Linked DNA regions of Homo sapiens: region 1 is linked to region 2. Evidence: fine-mapped QTL for protein levels in blood plasma. A gene starts in region 2. The other region holds a variant in brackets. All regions are shown on one strand. Distances are between the middles of the regions.

The links. A credible set is the group of variants that fine-mapping cannot tell apart. PIP is the chance, under the fine-mapping model, that this variant and not a neighbour inherited with it causes the effect. Protein levels are from the aptamer-based SomaScan assay of Sun 2018.
Region 1: its variant is the best candidate, but not a certain one, in a credible set for the plasma level of the GHR protein (Sun 2018, PIP 0.62).

What each region holds. Positions count from the first base shown.
Region 1 is chr5:42,680,824-42,688,823 of GRCh38, forward strand. The region is part of intron 3 of GHR (growth hormone receptor); the gene reads left to right. Among named protein-coding and RNA genes, the nearest start is that of CCDC152, 72 kb to the right of the region's middle. The variant T/C (reference allele first, on the strand shown) is at 6,704.
Region 2 is chr5:42,409,473-42,424,288 of GRCh38, forward strand. GHR (growth hormone receptor) reads left to right here and starts at 13,967. Exons shown (of 10, transcript NM_000163.5): 1 at 13,967-14,483. RefSeq lists promoters at 13,250-14,335, 13,759-14,331, 13,941-14,041, 14,239-14,816, 14,660-14,816, cis regulatory regions at 13,250-13,758, 14,096-14,136 and an enhancer at 13,963-14,112.

The sequences.
Region 1 (8,000 bases), 270 kb after region 2:
TGAATGCTTAATGTCTTTCTATTATTATTATTTTTTTTTATTATACTTTGTTCTGGCATGCATGTGCACAACGTGCAGATTTGTTACATAGGCATACATGTGCCATGTTGGTTTGCTGCACCCATTAAAAATTAATTCAAGATGGATTAAAGACTTAAATGTTAGGCCTAAAACCATAAAAACCCTAGAAGAAAACCTAGGCAATACCATTCAGGAAATAGGCATGGGCAAAGACTTCATGACTAAAACACCAAAAACAATGGCAACAAAAGCCAAAATTGGCAAATGGGATCTAATTAAACTAAAGAGCTTCTGCACAGCAAAAGAAACTACCAGCAGAGTGAACAGGCAACCTACAGAATGGGAGAAAATTTTTGCAATCCGCCCATCTGACAAAGGGCTAATATCCAGAATCTACAAAGAACTTCAATAAATTTACAAGAAAAAAAAAAAACCATCAAAAAGTGGGCAAAGGATATAAACAGACACTTCTCAAAAGAAGACATTTATGCAGCCAACAGACACATGAAAAAATGCTCATCATCACTGGTCATCAGAGAAATGCAAATCAAAACCACAATGAGATACCATTTCACACCAGTTAGAATGGCGATCGTTAAAAAGTCAGGAAACAACAGATGCTGGAGAGGATGTGGAGAAATAGGAACGCTTTTACACTGTTGGTGGGAGTGTAAATTAGTTCAACCATTGTGGAAGACAGTGTGGCAATTCCTCAAGGATCTAGAACTAGAAATACCATATGACCCAGTGATCCCATTACTGGGTATATACCCAAAGGATTATAAATCATGCTACTATAAATACACATGCGGCCGGGCGTGGTGGCTCATGCCTGTAATCCCAGCACTTTGGGAGGCTGAGGCAGGCAGATCACAAGTTCAGGAGATCGAGACCATCCTGGCTAACATGGTGAAACCCCATCTCTACTAAAAATACAAAAAATTAGGCAGGCGCAGTGGCGGGCGCCTGTAGTCCCAGCTACTCGGGAGGCTGAGGCAGGAGAATGGCATGAACCCGGGAGGCGGAGCTTGCAGTGAGCCGAGATAGCGCCACTGCAGTCCAGCCTGGGCAAAAGGGCAAGACTCCGTCTCAAAAAAAAAAAAAAAAAAAAAGACATATGCACACGTACGTTTACTGCAGCACTATTCACAATAGCAAAGACTTGGAACCAACCCAAATGTCCATCAGTGATAGACTGGATAAAGAAAGTGTGGCACATATACACCATGGAATACTATGCAGCCATAAAAAAGGATGAGTTCACGTCCTTTGCAGGGACATGGATGAAGCTGGAAACCATCATTCTCAGCAAACGATCACAAGAGCAGAAAACCAAACACCACATGTGTGTTCCAACTTAACTCATTGTTCTTAGTGATAATTCACTTAGGGGCAAAGTTAGGCTCTCTTGTTAATTGCAACATTCCTTTCAGAGGTGCTATAAATGGATGTTGAACTATACTATTTTTAGATTTAATCTTTAAAAATCATAAGAAAGCAAGAAATATTACTAGTTCAGAAATGATTTTCTGTTCCTGGCTAATCAGAGAAGACCTAAGAGTCTATAGTAGTCATTTGTTGTCTTCGTAGTAAAAGTAAGATTCTAATAGGATTTTTAGACATAGTGAGAAAGGTGTTCATTTTAAGATTATGGTAGTTCCTCTCAGATTTAGAAAGCCTTAAGATGACACTAAGGAGTTGGACTTTAGGAATGCTGAGTGTCTTCAGCCACAGCGGCACAATGGTACTAGATGTGACAGGATGTGATTAAGGAGAAACTAAACGGCCAGGCACAATATAGTTCTTCTTGCCTCCAAAAGAGGAGTCACCCACTTTCTCACACTCACTGTGATACATTCCATTTGCTAAGAAAAGTGGCTTGTGTCATTCTTGAGCACTACTTTTAAGTTCTGATATATTAAATTCATTTACTCTGTATTAATAGCATTCAAATATTTAGTAAAGTTAATATACCTCTCACACTTTTTCCAAAGTAACCCACCAGCTGTGTCCTGTGCTTCAAGCTATCTTATAAGACTGCAATCAAAGTGTCAGCCAGGGCTGTGGTCTCATCTGAAGGCTGGATAGGGAAAGATTGGTTCCCATGCTTATTTACATTGTTGTTGGCAGGATTCAGTTCCTCAAAGGTTTTTTTTATTTTTATATATTTTTTTTTGAGATGGAGTCTTGCTCCATCACCAGACTGGAGTGCAGTGGCGCAATCTTGGCTCACTGCAAACTCCGCTTCCCAGGTTCAAGCAATTCTCCTGCCTCAGCCTCCCAGGTAGCTGGGATTACAGGTGCATGCCACCATGCCCAGCTAATTTTTCTATTTTTAGTAGAGATGGGATTTCACCATGTTGGTCAGGCTGGTCTCGATCTCGTGACCTCATGATCCACCTACCTCAGCCTCCCAAAGTGCTGGGATTACAGGCATGAGCCACCGCGCCCAGCCAGTTCCTCAAGGGTTTTTATACTGAGGGCCTCTACTTCTTGCTGAGTGTTGGCCAGAGGCCATGCTTAGTTCTCTGCTGTATGGTTCTCACCACACAGCAACGTACTTCATCAAAACCAGCAAAAGGGTGAGTCTGCTAGTTAAAAAGAAGTCTCAATCTTTTGTAACCTAATCATAGAACTGCCATCCACTCCATGCTGCCATATTCTTCTGATTAGAAGCAAGTTACTCAAGGGAAGGAAATACATAAGGCTGTGAATGAGAGAAGACAGGAATCATTGGAGGCTACTTTAGGGGCTGTCTGCCACAGCACTTAACAGCACATACCCAGCCATAAAATTTAAAAAAGCCGGAAAGAGAGAAGGAGGGTGCAGGGTAAAATAAAGAAAAGAGGAAGGTGGAAGGGAAGAAAGGAAGGGAAAGAAAGACATTTAAAAAGACAAGAACAAAACAGCTCTGCTGCACAACATCTGTATCGGAGTTCCATGTGCAGACACACACGTCATCACATCAGCACCACACCCATAAATTTCCTATTTCTTATTTACAATGAGAAGGTAATAAGGACTTTCTATGCATCTGGAGTTAAAAGGAAACAATAAATCTAAGAATACTAAGTTTAAGTAATCAAAATGTGTTTCAGATTAGTTATTTTTTCTTTTTAAGTTTTTTTTTTTGTTTCAGCTGACAAAGTTTTTTATTTCTTTCTGTTTCAAGTTTTGAAGTTGAGTTTATTATTCTTGCTATTATGTAACAGGCATATTTTACAGAGAATATAGGAACCTGATTGACATTTGTATTTGGTGTTCTATTGTTGTTTCAATTCAAATGCCAAAATTATGTTTTTGTTGTGTACGTTATTGTTCATAATTATATATGCCTCTTAATTGTAAAAGCGAAGCTGTAAAATTGTAAAGTACTTTGTGTCTCATCTATTCCAGGCATTCTACTAAGGAAATCAAGACCAAATGGCTTGGGAAGGTCAACGTTAAATAGTGTCAGAGCCAGAACTAGAGTACACATCTCTCAATTTCTAATCTAGTGCATTTCCTTTTCTTATTTCTGTGCAAACGAACAGTTAGAATGTGAAATAGTCTCCTCAGATATACCAGCATTAAAACAGTTGTGGTTTAAATATTTAGTTTTAATAATTACTAACTTTGTAGAAGGACCTAAAATAGTGTTTGTTTTCAGTGCTTCAACTAATAGTAAAAAGGAATATTTTCAGTGCTTTACTGTATGAGAGGTGCTTGCCTAACGAAATACACATCTTTTTCACTGTACTCATTTGTAACAGATAATGTGGGCTCGTACACCTCAGTGTTCTGAGAGGGGTTGGTAAACACTGACCACATAGAGAGAGCTGCCCATCTGCCCTCAGTACCAAGGCACATCCCATCCATGCCCTAAAACTCTTGTAAATTTCTCCATTCATACAGGAAAATGAGTATTTCTTACAACAATATGACCGTGGAATTTGATTACAAAAACACTCCTGCTATCCCCAACCTGTGCTCCCAGGGCTAAAGACATATTTGCAACTCAGGATTTTCTGAAGATTCACTTGTTTGTACTATTGAGGGCAACAGTTGTTCTCAAACAAGGATGCAGTTCCTTTCTTCTTACCCTGCTTATTTTTCTTTTTATTATTATTATTATTATACTTTAAGTTCTGGGGTACATGTGCAGAACGTGCAGGTTTGTTACATAGGTATACATGTGCCATGGTGGTTTGCTGCACCCACCAACCCGTCATCTATATTAGGTATTTCTCCTAATGTTATCCCTCCCCCAGCCCCACAGCCCTCAACAGGCCCCAGTGTGTAAAGTTCCCCTCCCTGTGTATGTGTGTTCTCATTGTTCAACTCCCACTTATAAGTGAGAACATGTGGTGTTTGGTTTTCTGTTCTTGTGTTAGTTTGCTGAGGATGATGGTTTGCAGCTTCATCCATGTCCCTGCAAAGAACATGAACTCATCCTTTTTTATGGCTGAGTAGTATTCCATGGTGCATATATGCAACATTTTCTTTAACCAGTCTATCACTGATGGGCATTTGGGTTGGTTCCAAGTCCTTGCTATTGTGAACAGTGCTGCAATAAACATACATGTGCAAGTGTCTTTATAGTAGAATGATTTATAATCCTTTGGGTATATACCCAGTGATGGGATTGCTGGGTCAAATGGTATTTCTAGTTCTAGATCCTTGAGGAATTGCCACACTGTCTTCCACAATGGTTGAACTAATTTACACTCCCACCAACAGTGTAAAAGCGTTCCTATTTCTCCACATCCTCTCCAGCATCTGTTTTTTCCTGACTTTTTAATGATCGCCATTCTAACTGGTGTGAAATGGTATCTCATTGTGGTTTTGATTTGCATTTCTCTGATGACCGGTGATGACGAGCATTTTTTCATGTGTCTGTTGGCTGCATAAATGTCTTCTTTTGAGAAGTGTCTGTTTATATCCTTTGCCCACTTTTTGATGGGGTTGTTTTTTTTCTTGTAAATTTATTGAAGTTCTTTGTAGATTCTGGATATTAGCCCTTTGTCAGATGGGCAGATTGCAAAAATATTCCCCCATTCTGTAGGTTGCCTGTTCACTCTGCTGGTAGTTTCTTTTGCTGTGCAGAAGCTCTTTAGTTTAATTAGATCCCATTTGTCAATTTTGGCTTTTGTTGCTATTGCTTTTGGTGTCTTAGTCATGAAGTCTTTGCTCATGCCTATTTCCTGAATGGTATTGCCTAGGTTTTCTTCTAGGGTTTTTATGGTTTTGGGTCTTACGTTTAAGTCTTTAATCCATCTTGAGTTAATTTTTGTATAAGATGAAAGGAAGGGATCCAGCTTCAGCTTTCTGCGTATGGCTAGCCAGTTTTCCCAACACCATTTATTAAACAGGGAATCCTTTCCCCATTGCTTGTTTTTGTCAGGTTTGTCAAAGATCAAATGGTTGTGGATGTGTGGTGTTATTTCTGAGGCCTCTGTTCTGTTCCATTGGTCTATATATCTTATTTGGTACCAGTACCATGCTGTCTTTGTTACTGTAGCCTTGTAGTATGAAGTCAGAGACACAATAAAAAAAGAAAATTTTAGACCAATATCCCTGATGAACACTGATGCAAAAATCCTCAATAAAATACTGGCAAACCTAATCCAGCAGCACATCAAAAAGCTTATCCACCCCGATCAAGTCGGCTTCATCCCTGGAATGCAAGGCTGGTTCAACATACACAAATCAATAAACGTAATCCATCACAGAAACAGAACCAGTGACAAAACCACATGATTATCTCAATAGATGCAGAAAAAGCCTTCGACAAAATTCAACAGCCTTTCATGCTAAAAACTCTCAATTAACTAGGTATTCATGGAATGTATCTCAAAATAATAAGAGCTATTTTTGACAAACCCACAGCCAATATCATACTGAATGGGCAAAAGCTAGAAGCATTCCCTTTGAAAACCGGCATAAGAAAAGAATGCCCTCTCTCACCATTCCTTTTCAACATATTATTCAAAACTCTGGCGAGGGCAGTCAGGCAAGAGAAAGAAATAAAGGGTATTCAATTAGGAAAAGAGGAAATTCAATTGTCTCTGTTTGCAGATGACATGATTGTATATTTAGAAAACCCCATCGTCTCAGCCCAAAATCTCCTTAAGCTGATAAGCAACTTCAGCAAAGTCTCAGGATACGAAATCAAAGTGCAAAAATCACAAGCATTCCTATACACCAGTAACAGACAGAGAGCCAAATCACGAGCAAACTCCCATTCACAATTGCTACAAAGAGAATAAAATACCTAGGAATACAACTTACAAAGGATGTGAAGGACCTCTTCAAGGAGAACTACAAACCACTGCTCAAGGAAATAAGAGAGGACACAAACAAATGGAAAAACATCCTCATGGATAGGAAGAATCAATATCATGAAAATGGCCATATTGCCCAAAGTAATTTATAGATTCAATGCTATCCCCATCAAACTACCATTGACTTTCTTCACAGAATTGGAAAAAAACTACTTTAGATTTCATATGGAACCAAAAATGAGCCTGCATAGCCAAGATAATCGTAAGCAAAAAGAACAAAGCTGAAGGCATCACGCTACCTGACCCAGCTTATTTTTCTACATAGGATCCCCACATCCCTGCTTTTGCTAGAATGGAAACTAGACAAGGACCAACTTTTATCAACTTGTTCATTTCTCTATTCCTAGAACACAGCCTGG[T/C]ACAAAATTTGCGTTTAATAATGTTTGTTGAATGAATTTGAATGATGGATTTGTTTAGAAGGTTTATAACATCCCATGCCTTATGAGTTTGTTGCCAGAGGAAAAAAGAAGCCTGTTTTTGGTTCATAACATCAGGTATGTAACCTGGAATTTGGAATCATGAGTTTTTATGCATTTGCTTCATATTATTTATTTTTAAGAGATCTTTCAAAGTATTGACAAAGATACTTTAAGATTGAGAGCCTCCCTGATAACCCAGGAATGAGAGTTTTAGATTAAGTTTACAATATGATTGAAGGCTAATCATATAAGGAGAAAAAAATAAGAAAAAGAAGAGAAATTTGAAAAGAAATCTCCAAAATGGCCATGGACATCAGAACACTGAGAATTCATACACAAAAATGTGTTTTGCTTCATACCTGTCTGTTGCACATCTATACATTTCATAGATGCAGAGGAATTTTGGCTAAATTCCTAACACATGAGAGGCATTCTGCACTTACTTCTCAAATTAGAATTAACACATGAGTATGTATAAGTTGTTTAGAGTGGGCATCTATTTAATGAGTTTACTGGCTGAATCTTTTAAAAGAATGCAAACATAAGTGCCTTTTATCAAAAATCAATGAAAAGATAAAAGGCCCTGTAGTGCATGCTGTGGTTCCCACACTACATCCCCCACATCCACCTGATGTCATCACAACTGTCTATGGTGTCCATTTGCCACTATGCACCCTGCCGGGCAGACTCAGGTGCCTGCCTCGGCAAAGACCCTCAGCTCATGTGCAGGTACAGCCTAGAAGTGCATGGGGGTGAACATCTCTGAGGCACCCTTCAACCAGTGAGTACTGGGAGCGGTAGATAAATATCCTAGCCTCTCATCTTTCTACACAACAGTGGTGGTGCATATTCTACACAGCTTCTCAAAGGAGCCTCAGAGGGATTGGGCCCCATTAGCCACTGTGATAACCAGCTCAGAACACACACATATTAGTTGTTCTCCCTTTCCTTCCCACCCTCCCCATTCCCTGACTGCTAGATCCAGAAGTCATCTTCCAGATGAACTACCTATATCCAAATCCTAATCTCTAGCTCTGGTTTCTTAAACAGGTCCTATGAAATGCTTGAAATAAAAGGCAAAATGGTTTGTGTCTAGAATCAAAGGCTGACAATGGCAAGCAACAGGCACTAAAACTATGACCCAGGAAAAATGCTTTTCTGGAAGACATCGGCATTACCTCCTAGACACGGAATACACTGGCTTCATCCCAGTAGTTTCTTCACACACTTTAGATAC
Region 2 (14,816 bases):
TATCAAGTTGTTGCTGTCTTCTGCATATATGTTTCCTACATATTTCACATTGTATTACTTTTCTTTTAGCTTTATTTTCAATAATGAGCATCAGATAGCCCGAAAAATGAAATTCAACTTTTTAAACAAGGATTTGATAAGTTCTTAATACACTGAATTCTATACTGGGCTCCTCAATTGAAAACCAACCCTGAACCTCTTTTCCAAGCTGCTCTTAGACGAATATCTGCCCCCTTCCAGCCCTGTTCCCACTAAAGAAATGTACAGAGGTCTCCAGGAGATCATACTGTAAATACTGCTCACTGGCCCATGCTAGAGAGTTCCCGAGCTGTCTTTCCTCCAGCAATGTCCCCATTCACCAGACAAGGAAACTTTGGATGAATGAGATATGCCTGGCCATGAGCTGTGGTTCCTCTTCAGACCATTCTTTGTGATATCTCAGACTTTGGAGTTCCTAGCTGAAGTGTCCTGGAGTTCCAAGGTGGGGGAGGGAGAGGTTGGCTAGAGCTTGGACATGTATGCTTCTATACACACATATATAGGAGACCGTTGCTGAGCATAGTGGGAGCCAAGAGTGGGGAAAGTGGCAACGACTGGGGACTAAGAATCAAACTGAGGACCAGATATCCCTGCATGACTAACTTCTGGTGCAAAATTCTGAGAGGTCTGAGAAATCTAAATTCAAACCTGTCCTTTCAGGTCATTATGAAGGTATATTTCTGAAGGTAAGAGGATAGAACACATTGTAGCCAACAATTCATTAGACTGACAATACTTTAAAATATTAATATTTAGCCTTATGGACTTATACTATGCGGGCTTCATTTGTCCTCTGGCTGTGGCTCCCACAAATGTTAGAAGTGGGCCTACATGTGATGGAACTAAAATGCAATAGACTTTCCTTATGTCCTTCCCTGCTACCACTACCATTAGTTTGGTTCCTAGATATTGAAAGATAATTTTAAAGATTTTGCCAAAGACAGATGCTTGTAGGGTGGTGGCTTGAAAACACAAATTGAGCAAGATGGTAGCATGGCTACATGAAAAGGTATGGAGTTGTCCACAGAATGCTCTTGTTTCACTGGACTATATCAATCTCATTGTGTGACTTGGTCTAGTTGATTTTCTTCTCCAAGCCACTTTCTTACTAAAAAAGAAAGGACAATCACACCTTTTTCACAGGACTACTGTGAAAAAATCCTTACATAATTTATGTGATTTGTGCTTGGAATATTGCACAGTGTTAAAAAATATGGTAAACACATTTTAGGAAGCAAATAAAATTTGGACAATCTGATTTATTTTTGTCTACAACAGCTGAAACCTATTTTACTTAGCTTTTAAGTTCTTTTATAGAGGTATCACTGTTTTTTATGTGGCTAGACATCTCAGCCTTACACCTGGTTCAGAAAGTGCTCCAGAGGGCCAGTGGCTGGGAGAAAAGTGCTATTACCTTGCTAGTCATCTTGTTCCTCAATATAGCCCTTACCCTACCTAAGGAGTTTTTCCAGCCAGAAATTCTCCAGTAGTTCATACCCTCACTTGACCTTTTCTGGCTTCACTGGGTAGACATTGAGTAGGCAGAGCTGGGTTTTTTTCAAGCTCAAAAGGGTTCAGTGTTATTTCTCTTGGGCATCCATGATGCCCTCAGTCAAGTCTGATTAGCAAGTTACATTGAGAGTTCATTTAGTAATTGGAAATGATCTGTGTGCCTTTTATGAAGGAAAGCGGTTATGAGAAACTTTCTCATACCTGGTCAGATTCCTTTCTCATTTATATCCTTTTTTTTGCTTTTATATTTTCACTTCTTTTAAAAATTAAGAAGATAGAGGTAAAGAAAAGAATCCTACAGTATGTGAAGATAGGCAGTAGGAAAGGATTGAAATGGAAAATGAAAGAAGGGATAGACATCCCTTTATCACACTGAGGTGCCTGAATTTACTTCCTGGGAGTGTAGGCTGAATAAGTAGCATAGGTTGTTTGGAACTGGGATCCCACCACATCTAACAGACTCCAGGGCTTCTGTCATTTCATTACTCTATGGCACCTAGCTGAAAGCTTATGGTCTTCCTCTATCTTGTGGTGACCACAATGGAATTGAATTTGATACCGGGAACAGCAATTTATGAAGGAGTTTGATAAACTGGAGCACACACCAAGGAGGTAGCCCAGGATGGTGTAGGGTCAGCAAGTCTCATTGACTTCTCATGTCAATGAGAAGTAGTGAAAACACCTGTGTGTGTTTGGTCTGGAGAAGAGGTAACTGGCAGTATGACATGTAAGTGTGTCTCATGAAACAAACAAATTTAAATTGCTAATTTTTTCCCTATGAGAGATAGAATCAGGTACAAATAATAGAATAGCAAATTCTTAGTAACATATTTTTAACAAATAATGCAGTCATGCTGCCCAGTGAGGGAATTAGTGGGTTACTCATCAGTACAATTATTCAGAAAGCAGAAATCATCTCAATGTTTCTAATTGTTTCATCATCTTTGATAGATGATTGTCTATCAGATGGGTTTTTTAAACAGGCTTTTGCATTTGGTGAGAAGGTAAAGAAAATAATGTCAATTTTTAAAAATCTCCACACTTAAATTATTTAAAGGGGAATGTTTATTCATGAGTCTCTTTTGAGACCTGTTTGATTTTGTTCCTCTCTACCAGGTGGCTGTACATAATCTGGCATATCCCTGGCCTGTAACTTTCCTGTGGGTGAATCCACTAAAGAGCATAAAGGAGATCAGTTTTATTTATTCCTTTGAGTTTTTATAAACTCTGAATTGAAATACCTATTTTTTGAAATTCATAAAATAAATGGTAATTTTTGTTCGTTTGTTTTTGCTTTTTTAATTATACTTTAAGTTCTAGGGTACATGTGCACAACGTGCAGGTTTGTTACATAGGTATACATGTACCATGTTGGTTTGCTGCACCCATTAACTCATCATTTACATTAGGTATTTCTCCTAATGCTATCCCTCCCCCATGCCCCTACCCCATGACAGGCACCAGTGTGTGATGTTCCCCACCCTGTGTCCAAGTGTTCTCATTGTTCAATTCCCACCTATGAGTGAGAATATGTGGTGTTTGGTTTTCTGTCATTGCTATAGTTTGCTCAGAATGGTTTCCAGCTTCATCCATGTTCCTTCAAAGGACATGAATTCATCCATTTTTATGGCTGCATAGTATTCCATGTTGTAGATGTGCCACATTTTCTTAATCCAGTCTATCACTGATGGACATTTGGACTGGTTCCAAGTCTTTGCTACTGTGAACAGTGCCGCAGTAAACATACGTGTGCATGTGTCTTTATAGCAGCATGATTTATAATCCTTTGGGTATATACCCAGTAATGGGATGGCTGGGTCAAATGGTATTTCTAGTTCTAGATCCTTGAGGAATCACCACACTGTCTTCCACAACAGTTGAACTAGTTTACACTCCCACCAACAGTATAACAGTGTTCCTATTTCTCTACATCCTCTCCAGCATCTGTTGTTTCGTGACTTTTTAATGATCACCATTCTAACTGGCGTGAGATGGTACCTCACTGTGGTTTTGATTTGTGTTTCTCTGATAACCAGTGGTGATGAGCATTTTTTCATGTGTCTGTTGGCTGCATAAATGTCTTCTTTTGAAAAGTGTCTGTTCTTATACTTTGCCCACTTTTTGATGGGGTTGTTTCATTTTTTCTTGTAAATTTGTTTAAGTTCTTTGTAGATTCTGGATATTAGCCCTTTGTCAGATGGGTAGATTGCAAAATATTTCTCCCATTCATGTAGGTTGCCTAGCTAACTCTGATGGTAGTTTCTTTTGCTGTGCAAAAACTGTTTAGCTTAATTAGATCCCATTTGCTAATTTTGGCTTTTGTTGACATTGCTTTTGGTGTTTTAGTCATGAAGTCCTTGCCCATGCCTATGTCCTGAATGGTATTGCCTAGGTTTTCTTGTAGGGTTTTTATGGTTTTAGGTCTAACATTTAACTCTTTAATCCATCTTGATTTAATTTTTGTATAAGGTGTAAGAAAGGGATCCAGTTTCAGCTTTCTATATATGGCTAGCCAGTTTTCCCAGCACCATTTACTAAATAGGGAATCCTTTCCCCATTGCTTGTTTTTCACAGGTTTGTCAAAGATCAGATGGTTGTAGAAGTGTGGTGTTATTTCTGAGGGCTCTGCTCTGTTCCATTGGTCTATACACCTGTTTTGGTACCAATACCATGCTGTTTTGGTTACTGTAGCCTTGTAGTATAGTTTGAAGTCAGGTAATGTGATGGCTCCAGCTTTGTTCTTTTTGCTTAGGATTGTCTTGGCAATGAGGGCTCTTTTTTGGTTCCATATGAACTTTAAAGTAGTTTTTTCCAGTTCTATGAAGAAAGTCATTGGTAGCTCGATGGGGATGGCATTAAATCTATAAATTACCTTGGGCAGTATGGCCATTTTCATGATATTGATTCTTCCTATCCATGGGCATGGAATGTTCTTCCATTTGTTTGTGTCCTCTTTTATTTCATTGAGCAGCGGTTTGTAGTTCTCCTTGAAGAGGTCCTTCACATCCCTTGTAAGTTGGATTCCTAGGTGTTTTATTCTCTTTGTAGTAATTGTGAATGGGAGTTCACTCATGATTTGGCTCTCTGTTTGTCTGTTATTGTTGTGTAGGAATGCTTGTGATTTTTGCACATTGATTTTATATCCTGAGGCTTTGCTGAAGTTGCTTATCAGCTTAAGGAGATTTTGGGCTGAGATGATGGGGTTTTCTAAATATACAATCATGTCATCTGCAAATGGGGACAATTTGACTTCCTCATTTCCTAACTGAATACCCTTTATTTCTTTCTCTTGCCTGATTGCCCTGGCCAGAACTTCCAACGCTATGTTGAATAGGAGTGGTGAGAGAGGGCATCCTTGTCTTGTGCCAGTTTTCAAAGGGAATGCTTCCAGTTTTTGCCCATTCTTTATGATGTTGGCTGTGGTCTTGTCACAAATAGCTCTTATTATTTTGAGATACCTTCCATCAATACCTAGTTTATTGAGAGTTTTTAGCATGAAGGGCTGTTCAATTTTGTCAAAGGCCTTTTCTGCATCTATTGAGATAATCATGTGGTTTTTGTAGTTGGTTCTGTTTATATGCTAGATTATGTTTATTGATTTGCATATATTGAACCAGCCTTGCATCCCAGGGATGAAGCCAACTTGATCTTGGTGAATAAGCTTTTTGATGTGCTGCTGGATTCAGTTTGCCAGTATTTTATTGAGGATTGTTGCATCGATGTTCATCAGGGAGAATGGTCTAAAATTGTCTTTTTTTGTTGTGTCTCTGCCAGGATTTGGTATCAGGATGATGCTGGCCTCATAAAATGAGTTAGGGAGGATTCCTTCTTTTTCTATTGATTGGAATAATTTCAGAAGGAATGGTATCAGCTCCTCTTTGTACCTCTGGTAGAAATCGGCTGTGAATCTATCTGGTCCTGGACTTTTTTTGGTTGTTGGGCTCTTAATTATTGCCTCCATTTCAGAGCCTGTTATTGGTTTATTCAGGGATTCAGCTTCTTCCTGGTTTAGTCTTGGGAGTGTGTATGTGCACAGGAATTTATGCATTTCTTCTAGATTTTCTAGTGTATTTGCATAGAGGAGTTTATAGTATTCTCTGATGTTAGTCTGTATTTCTGTGGGATCAGTGGTGATATCCCCTTTATCATTTTTTATTGTGTCTATTTGATTCTTCTCTCTTTTCTTCTTTATTATTCTTGCTAGCAGTCTATCAATTTTGTTATCTTTTCAAAAGAACCAGCTCCTGGAGTCATTGATTTTTTGAAGAGTTTTTTGTGTCTCTGTCTCCTTCAGTTCTGCTGTGATCTTAGTTATTTCTTGCTTTCTGCTAGCTTTTGAATTTGTTTGCTCTTGCTTCTCTAGTTCTTTTAATTGTGATGTTAGGGTATTGATTTTAGATCTTTCCTGCTTTCTCTTGTGGGCATTCAGTGCTTTAAATTTCCCTCTACACACTGCTTTAAATGTGTCCTAGAGATTCTGGTACATTGTGTCTTTGTTCTCATTGATTTCAAAGAACATCTTTATTTCTGCCTTCATTTTATTATTTACCCAGTAGTCATTCAGGGGCAGGTTGTTCCGTTCCCAGGTAGTTGTGCAGTTTTGACTGAGTTTCTTAATCCTGAGTTCTAATTTGATTGCTCTGTGGTCTGAGAAACAGTTTGTTGTTATTTTTGTTCTTTTACATTCGCTGACAAGTGCTTTACTTCCAACTATGTAGTTAATTTTGGAATAAGTGTGATGTGGTGCTGAGAAGAATGTATATTCTGTTGATTTGGGGTGGAGAATTCTGTAGATGCCTATTAGGTCTGCTTGGTACAGAGCTGAGTTCAATTCCTGGACATTCTTGTTAACCTTCTATCTTGTTGATCTGTCTAATATTGACCGTGGGATGTTAAAGTCTGCCATTATTATTGTGTGGGAGTCTAAGTCTCTTCGTAGGTCTCTAGGGACTTGCTTTATGAATCTGGGTGCTCCTGTATTGGGTGCATATATATTTAGGATAGTTAGCTCTTCTTGTTGAATTGATCCCTTTACCATTATGTAATGGCCTTCTTTGTCTCTTTTGATCTTTGTTGGTTTAATGTCTGTTTTATCAGAAACTAGGATTGCAACCCCTGCCTTTTTTTGTTTTCCATTTGCTTGGTAGATCTTCCTCCATCCCTTTATTTTGAGTCTATGTGAGCCTCTGCATGTGAGATGGGTCTCCTGAATGCAGCACACTGTTGGGTCTTGACTCTTTATCCAATTTGCCAGTCTATGTCTTTTAATTAGGGCATCTAGCCCATTTACATTTAAGGTTAATATTGTTATGTGTGAACTTGATCCCATCATTATGATGTTAGCTGGTTATTTTGCCCGTTACTTGATGCAGTTTATTCTTCACGTTGATGGTCTTTACAATTTGGCATGTTTTTGCAGTGGCTGGTATCAGTTTTTCCTTTCCATGTTTAGTGCTTCCTTCAGGAGCTCTTGTAAGACAGGCCTGGTGGTGGGTAAATCTCTCAGCCTTTGCTTGTCTGTAAAGGATTTTATTTCTCCTTCATTTATGAAGCTTAGTTTGGCTGGATATGAGATTCTGGTTTGAAAATTCTTTTCCTTAAGAATGTTGAATGTTGGCCCCCCTCTCTTCTGGCTTGTAGAGAGGGATCTGTAAAGATCTCTTGTAGAGAGGGATCTGTAAAGATCTCTTGTAGAGAGGGATCTGTAAAGATCTCTTGTAGAGAGGGATCTGTAGAGATCTCTTTCTGCCAAGAGATCCACTGTTAGTCTGATGGGCTTCCCTTTGTGGGTGACCCTACTTTTCTCTTTGGCTGCCCTTAACATTTTTTCCTTCATTTCAACCTTGGTGAATCTGATGATTATGTGTCTTGGGGTTGCTCTTCTTGAGGATTATCTTTGTGGTGTTCTCTGTATTTCCTGAATTTGAATGTTGGCCTGCCTTGCTAGGTTGGGGAAGTTCTCCTGGATAATATCCTGAAGAGTGTTTTCCAATTTGGCTCCATTCTCCCCATCAGTTTCAGGTACACCAATAAGACGTAGGTTTGGTCTTTTCACATAGTCCCATATTTCTTGGAGGCTTTGTTCATTTCTTTTTACTCTTTTTTCTCTAAACTTCTCTTCTCACTTCATTTCATTAATTTGATCTTCAATCACTGAAACCTTTTCTTCCACTTGATCAAATTGGCTACTGAAACTTATGCATGCATCATATAGTTCTCATGCGATGTTTTTCAGCTCCATGAGGTCATTTAAGGTCTTCTTTACACTGTTTATTCTAGTTAGCCATTCGTCTCATCTGTTTTCAAGGTTTTTAGTTTCCTCATGATGGGTTCAAACATCGTCCTTTAGCTCGGAGAAGTTTGTTATTACTGACCTTCTGAAGCCTACTTCTGTCAACTCATCAAAGTCATTCTCCATCCAGCTTTGTTCTGTTGCTGGCAAGGAGCTGCAATCCTTTGGAGGAGAAGAGGCGCTCGGGTTTTTAGAATTTTCAGCTTCTCTGCTCTGGTTTCTCCCCATCTTTGTGGTTTTATCTACCTTTGGTCTTTGATGTTGGTGACTACAGATGGGGTTTTGGTGTGGATGTGCTTTTTGTTGATGTTGATGCTATTCCTTTCTTTTTGTTAGTTTTTCTTCTACCAGTCAGGTCCCTCAGCTGCAGGTCTGTTGGAATTTGCTGGAGGTCTACTCCAGAAACTCTTTGCCTGGGTATCACCAGCAGAGGCTGCAGAACAGCAAATATTGCTGCCTGATCCTTCCTCTGGAAGCTTCATCCCAGAGGGGCACCTGCCTGTATGAGGTGTCTGTCAGCCCCTACTGGGAGGTGTCTCCCAGTTAGGCTACACGGGGGTCAGGGACCCACTTGAGGAGGCAGTCTGTCCTTTCTCAGAGTTCAAACACCATGCTGGGAGAACCACTGCTCTCTTCAGAGCTGTCAGACAGGGCCATTTAAGTCTGCAGAAGTTTCTGCTGCCTTTTGTTCAGCTATGCCCTGCCCCCAGAGTTGGAGTCTACAGAGGCAAGCAGGCCTCGTTGAGCTGCGGTGGGCTCCACCCAGTTCAAGCTTCCCAGCCACTTTCTTTACCTACTCAAGCCTCAGCAATGGCTGACGTCTCTCCTCCAGCCAGGCTACCACCTCGTAGTTTGATGTTGGACTGCTGCACTAGCAGTGAGCAAGGCTCTGTGGGTGTGGGACCTGCTGAGCCAGGCACAGGAAGGAACTTCCTCGTCTGCTGGTTGTGAAAACTGAGGGAAAAGTGAAGTATTTGGGCAGAAGTGTACCATTCCTCCAGGTACAGACTGTCACTGCTTCCCTTGGCTAAGAAAGGGAAATTCCCCAACCCCTTGCTCTTCCCGGGTGAAGCGACGCCCCACCCTGCTTCAGCTTATTCTCTCTGGGCTGCACCCACTGTCCAACCAGTCCCAATGAGATGAACCAGGTACCTCAGTTGGAAATGCAGAAATCACCCGTCTTCTGCATCAGTCACGCTGGGAGCTGCTGATGAGAGCTGTTCCTATTTGGCCATCTTAGGTTGTTTTCCAATAAATGGCAATTTTAAGCTTTCACCTGGCTCTGGGACCTCCTCATAAATTTTGGCTAAGAATACCCAGATCATGAAATAACATTTTCCCTGTTACCTTCCAATATAGGGGGAAAGCAATAAATACTTCCCTAAGTCATTTTTTTCTCTTCATGATTCCCTTGCCATCCTCACCCAAGGCAGTTGTGGGATGGAACTAGGGGACTAAGATAAAGAGAGTACCCTAGTCAAAGAGCTCTCACAGTGTGCTCACAAGCATCACATGCTCAATTCCATGATATGCTGAGTCCTGGGCAAGGAAGGAATTCTCAGCACTCTTGTACCTGCTACCTGACATTCTTGAGCCTCTTACCCTGCTATGGTTTTCTTTAATCAGCACTTCAGTGATTTACTTATTATGTTTATTGTTCATTGTCTCTCCTAACTAGAATGCAAGCCCCATGAGGGCAGCATCTTTGTAGATATGTGGTATAAATTTTGTTCCCTGATGCATGCTAAGTTTTTAGAACGAAGTCTGTCATAGTGTAGGCTCACCAACATTTGTATGAATGAAAGAACATGGTGAATGGGAATTCAGTGTTAGTTTAAAAAAAATTCATTAAAGGGATAATATTTTATTAGAATCTTATTAATTTTACCAGTAAATATTGTATTAATCAGGGAGATATATATATATATATATGTCATATTCATGAGATATATATATATATATATATGTCATATTCATGAGATATATATACAGAGACTTATTTTGAGAAATTTGCTCACATAATTGTGAAAACTGAAAAGTCAAAAATCTACAGGGTAAATTGGTTACAGATTTAGGGAATAGTTGATATGCAGTTTGAATCCAAAGGCTGCCTGCTGACAGAATTTTCTCTTCTTTGGGATAGGTCAGTTTTTTTCTCTTAATGCCTTCAACTGATCGATTGAGGCCCACCTACATTATGTAGAGCAATATGATTTACTCAAAGTCTATTGATTTAAATGTTAATCTTACCATAAAAATGCCTTTGCCAAAAAAATCTAAAATAATATTTGACCAAATATCTGGGTACCATGGTCTAGCAAAATTGACACATAAAATTAACCATCTCAATGTGTCAACTTTGCTAGGGCATGGTACCCGGACATTTGGTCAAATATTATTCAAATAAATTTAGAATTTATCACAAATGTTTGATATCATAATTTGATTTACAAATATCAATCTAATACTTTATTTTACAGCTGAATGATCTCAGAGAGCAACCCCTTCCTTCTATAGGCCAAGAAATGGAGTCATTGTGAGATTAGTAACTAATTTACCCAAAATCACAGAGGACCCACACAGGATCCCAAGGCTCCTGACTAACAATCCTATGTTCTTCAACTACAAATGCTATAAAACAAAACAGCTATAAAATGCTACTTTAAGTGTTTTGGCCTCTTTTGTTTTGTTTTGAGAAGAAGCTTTGGCATTTTATAGTACAACAGAGTGACTAAAGCCATGCTCTAACCTCAGATAACTGTAGATTTAGGAAGTTTATACTGTGGTGTTTTATGGTTTGGGGAGATGGCGATCTGACCTAGATATCTGCACTTGAATATATATAATCAGAATTATTTTCTAATTGTTTCTATTGTCTTCAAGGCAGTTTATATTTTTTGCTAAGCCCTACTGGGGATGTATAAAAGACTGGGGAAGGGTGGGCCATAATAAGGTAAGGCCATAATAAGGTAAAATAGGTTGGACAAGATAAGTTAGCCAATATCTGAGTAAAGACTTCAAGGAACTGTAGGAGGAAGCAAATGAATATTTGTGGAAGTGTGTTTAAATCAGAGAGAAAAGCCAGCAAAAAGCCTTCAAGTTAGGAGTCTGCCTGGCCTGCTTAAGAAACAGCAGGGAGGCCGGTGTGCTGGGAGCAGAATGGATGACCCAGTGATGGGGAAATTCATGGGAGATGAGGTGTGGGGCAAAGGTACATAGCTCACGTAGGGTCTCATGGGCCATTTTGAATTTTATTCTGATTTGAATGGGGAACCATTGGAGGGTTTTGAGCTGAGGAATGACATGATATTAATTTTAAAAGGAATGACTATGGCAACTGAATTTATACTTTGGGTTGTTGTTGGTGTTGGTTGGGGATTAGGGGTGGGGTTTGTCAAAGCAAGCAGACCAGTTGAGTTGAGAGACTACTGCAGTAATCTGAGAAATTCTGGTGGTTCAGACCAGGTGTCTCTGGACCTCTCCAAGAAAATAGACAGAGTTTTGAATGTGGAATGTGATTGGCAGAGAAGAAGTAAGGATGATTTCAAAGGTTTGTGGCCTGGGTAACTGGCAGGAAGTAGTTGCCATCTACTGAGATGGAAATGTCACCCACTGTGATTGGAGTATGTTTAAGGAGAAAGAACCAGAGTTCAGATGTGGACATGTCAAGTTTCAGAGGTCTGTTAGACATCCAAATGGAGATACCCAGTTGTTAGCCTGGAGCTCTGTGGAGAGATCTGGGTTAGAGATATAAATCCAAGAGATACAACTTTTCATTCAATTTGATTATTTATTGGACGCTTTATAAACTCTGTAAATACTGGGCACTAACCTAGACATTGCAGGTACAGATATTAAGAATATATAGTTTCTCCCTCAGAAATCTCTTAATTAATGAGAAAAGCAGACATGTCAACAAAACTGCAATATTTAATAAAAGAAGATATAAAGGCCTATAAAGGTGCTGATACAGGGAGAATTAATTAATTCCACCCTGGGGAATAGTCAGGAAGACCTTCAGAGAGAAAGTAAACAATTGATTGGAACTTTAAGATTAAGAAGGATTTCTCTGGGTGGACAAAGTAGGATCTTCCAAGCAGAGTGGAAACCATGAGCAAATGCAGTTTCATTCTTCAGAAGGTAAATGTGCTCTGGCATGCCTTAACTTATAACAAATTAATCAACTCAATACCTGCTACATTTTCCCTCACAATTTGGAATATATAAAGAGGCACATACTACTATGGACCAATACCTGGTCATATATGAGATTGAAGGACCTTTACTTACGAGGCTTAAAAATAAAGACTGCCCTTCATGTCAGTTGCAGGTTTATATCTAGTTCTATAGTATTAACTGAGGTGTCTTTTCCTATGTTTTCTGTGCATGATGACTTTTTAAAAATCAAAGACAGAGCAGCAGCCAGAGTAGTCTAGTTTCATGGCACACAGAATGGAGGATATTGCTGAACCCAGATTTAAAAAAAAAAAGAAGTCAATTCTTATTTTTTTAAGTATGGCCCTGAGCTCATCTCAGAGCATAAACAATAGAATTTAGAATATCTTTTATGACTCCGTCTGGCACCTCCTAAACTAGATCAAGATTCTCTAGCTCAGGGAAGAAGGGCAAAGGATGAGAAGGCACAGAGAGGATATAAACAGAGAGGTTGGTAGTGCCAGGCTCTGAAGAAGGTCCAACTTGGAAGGTCATTTCAGACAGGCGTGGAGTCAGCATTTGAGGCCTGTCTGGTCTCTACTCCTGCCAGGACTACCCTGTCAGCCAGCTTGGCAGGTATGGACCACCCAGCAGGAGTTTTTCTTGACTGTGCCCTAATCTTTTACTTTCCCAAGTTTCTCTATATGGGTACCTCCCCTTTTAAAAGCTCCAGACACAGCCAAGCACCACTATTGCTCCAGCAAAGTATGAAGCCCCAGAAATCAATGGTTTGGGGAAGAGTCTTAGGGGAACTAAATGCCTCCTTATTTTTAGATGCCATAGAACAAGAGCAGTTCAGGATCAATAACCATCCCACCCCATGATAAAACACGCCCCTTCCAGAATCTTTCCTTTTTCGTTCATTCTAGGTGTCTGTCTGGAACAGCTGGGGTATTTGAGCCACAGCTGAGCTTCTGAAAGCATTCTAAGGAACAGTTTTTCACTTATCTGATTCCTTTGAAAATAGGGGTATCTTATGTGATATCTGCTATCCCAGAGTCTTTGGTCCTCTGTTCCTTCTCAAGTCTTGGCTCCCGTGTACTACTTCAAAGCCCTATAGATATTTTATTCTAAAGAAAAGAAACTTGGTTCCTTTAAGTTGTTTAAACATTTCTTTCTGGGTATAAACTTGGGTTTGTGTCTGGGAGCTCTGTTAAAAAAAAAAAGTCTTTAGTAAGCCAAAGCTGTTAGAAGCTTATAAGTAAGTGACATTACAATTGACCGTCAGTAAATAGTGGAAAGATTGCATGACTAGCTACTCCTTCAGATCTGAGACAACCTGGAGCTAGATTTTTGTACTCTCTACTCAGAAAAGCATATAGTGACTTGGGGTTTGATGCTGTACAAAAATGACATGCTTATGCACAACTTTAACTTTCTGCAACACTTTTACAACTTCTTGTGAATGAAGTAGGCAGGGCTCGCATTTGACAGATGAGCTATGTCCAGCGTGAGGCAGAGTTAAAACCCTTTTCCTGGCTCAGGAACTTCAGGCTGGGGCCTGTGTCTGCTCTCCCTGCATCCCTGTCCTCTAGCAGATACCTCTCTGCTAACATGCTGAGTGTCCTTGGTAAATTACTCATTCTCTCTGTCTCCGTCTTCTAACCTCCACAATAAAGTCCTTCGTAGTTTTAACTATCTTTTCACTGTGCCCCAGTGAGCAGGAGTTTGGAACTTGATTGTTGATGGAAAGGCAATATTTGGATGGCTAAACACGCTTTCCAAGGTATCTCGCTGATCTTCCTCTCATTCCTGGAGATAGCTAACCTTTTTGTAAGTGTTTCTTTGAGTCTGTGGACTGCACTTAACGCTCTTGTAGGTCCTGCTTTCATTTGGAACGGGCAGGCGGAGAGGAAGGAAGTGTATTGCAACTACCAATATTTTCCTCTAGGAGGAGCCGCGCAGCTCAGTTGAGAGTGACACGCACCAACTCCAGCTCCTCGCCGGGAAGACTTCATCCCAGCAACTCGGAATGCTTGGCCCGGGCGGCACTCGGCCTCTCCGCAGCAGTTCTCGAACTGGCCTCCTTGAACGTCCGCTTCGCCTTCGCTTCTGCAACCTGGATCTGGGGGACTGCGGGCCAGGCGCGGCGTGACCCCTGGTGAACGGTGGCCGCCTTTTCCCACCCCTGCCCTCCCATCCTCCCTTCCCGTTTCACCCCGCCCCCTCTCTCCTCCCCAAGCCTGACAGCCCGCGAGCTGCCAAGCAGGGCGCAGCCATGGGAAGAGGAGGAGGGCTAGGGAGCGGCGGCGGCGGCGGCAGCGGCAGCAGCAGCTGCTACAGTGGCGGTGGCGGCGGCGGCTGCTGCTGAGCCCGGGCGGCGGCGGGGACCCCGGGCTGGGGCCACGCGGGCCGGAGGCCCCGGCACCATTGGCCCCAGCGCAGACGCGAACCCGCGCTCTCTGATCAGAGGCGAAGCTCGGAGGTACTGGAGTGGGGCTCCGGGAGTCTGGCTTTATTTTCCTCCTGTTGTGCCAGGGGGCCTGAGGGTGAACCCTGGGACTCTAGTTGTTTATGAAAACGGGAGGATCTGTCTTATATATTTACACGGATAATTTTTTATTCCGGATGACTTGGCTGTGCTCCCCTCCTCCTTGCGAAGAAGTTGTTTTCTGCTGGTGGGTTGTTGTAACCCAATCTAGTGTGTGTGTGTGTGTGTGTGTGTGTGTGTGTGTGTGTGTGTGTGTGTCTGGAAGTTGGTGAGGGCGGCAGGGAGTTGCGGGCGACAGACGAACCATCACACTCTGGCGTCTGCTCT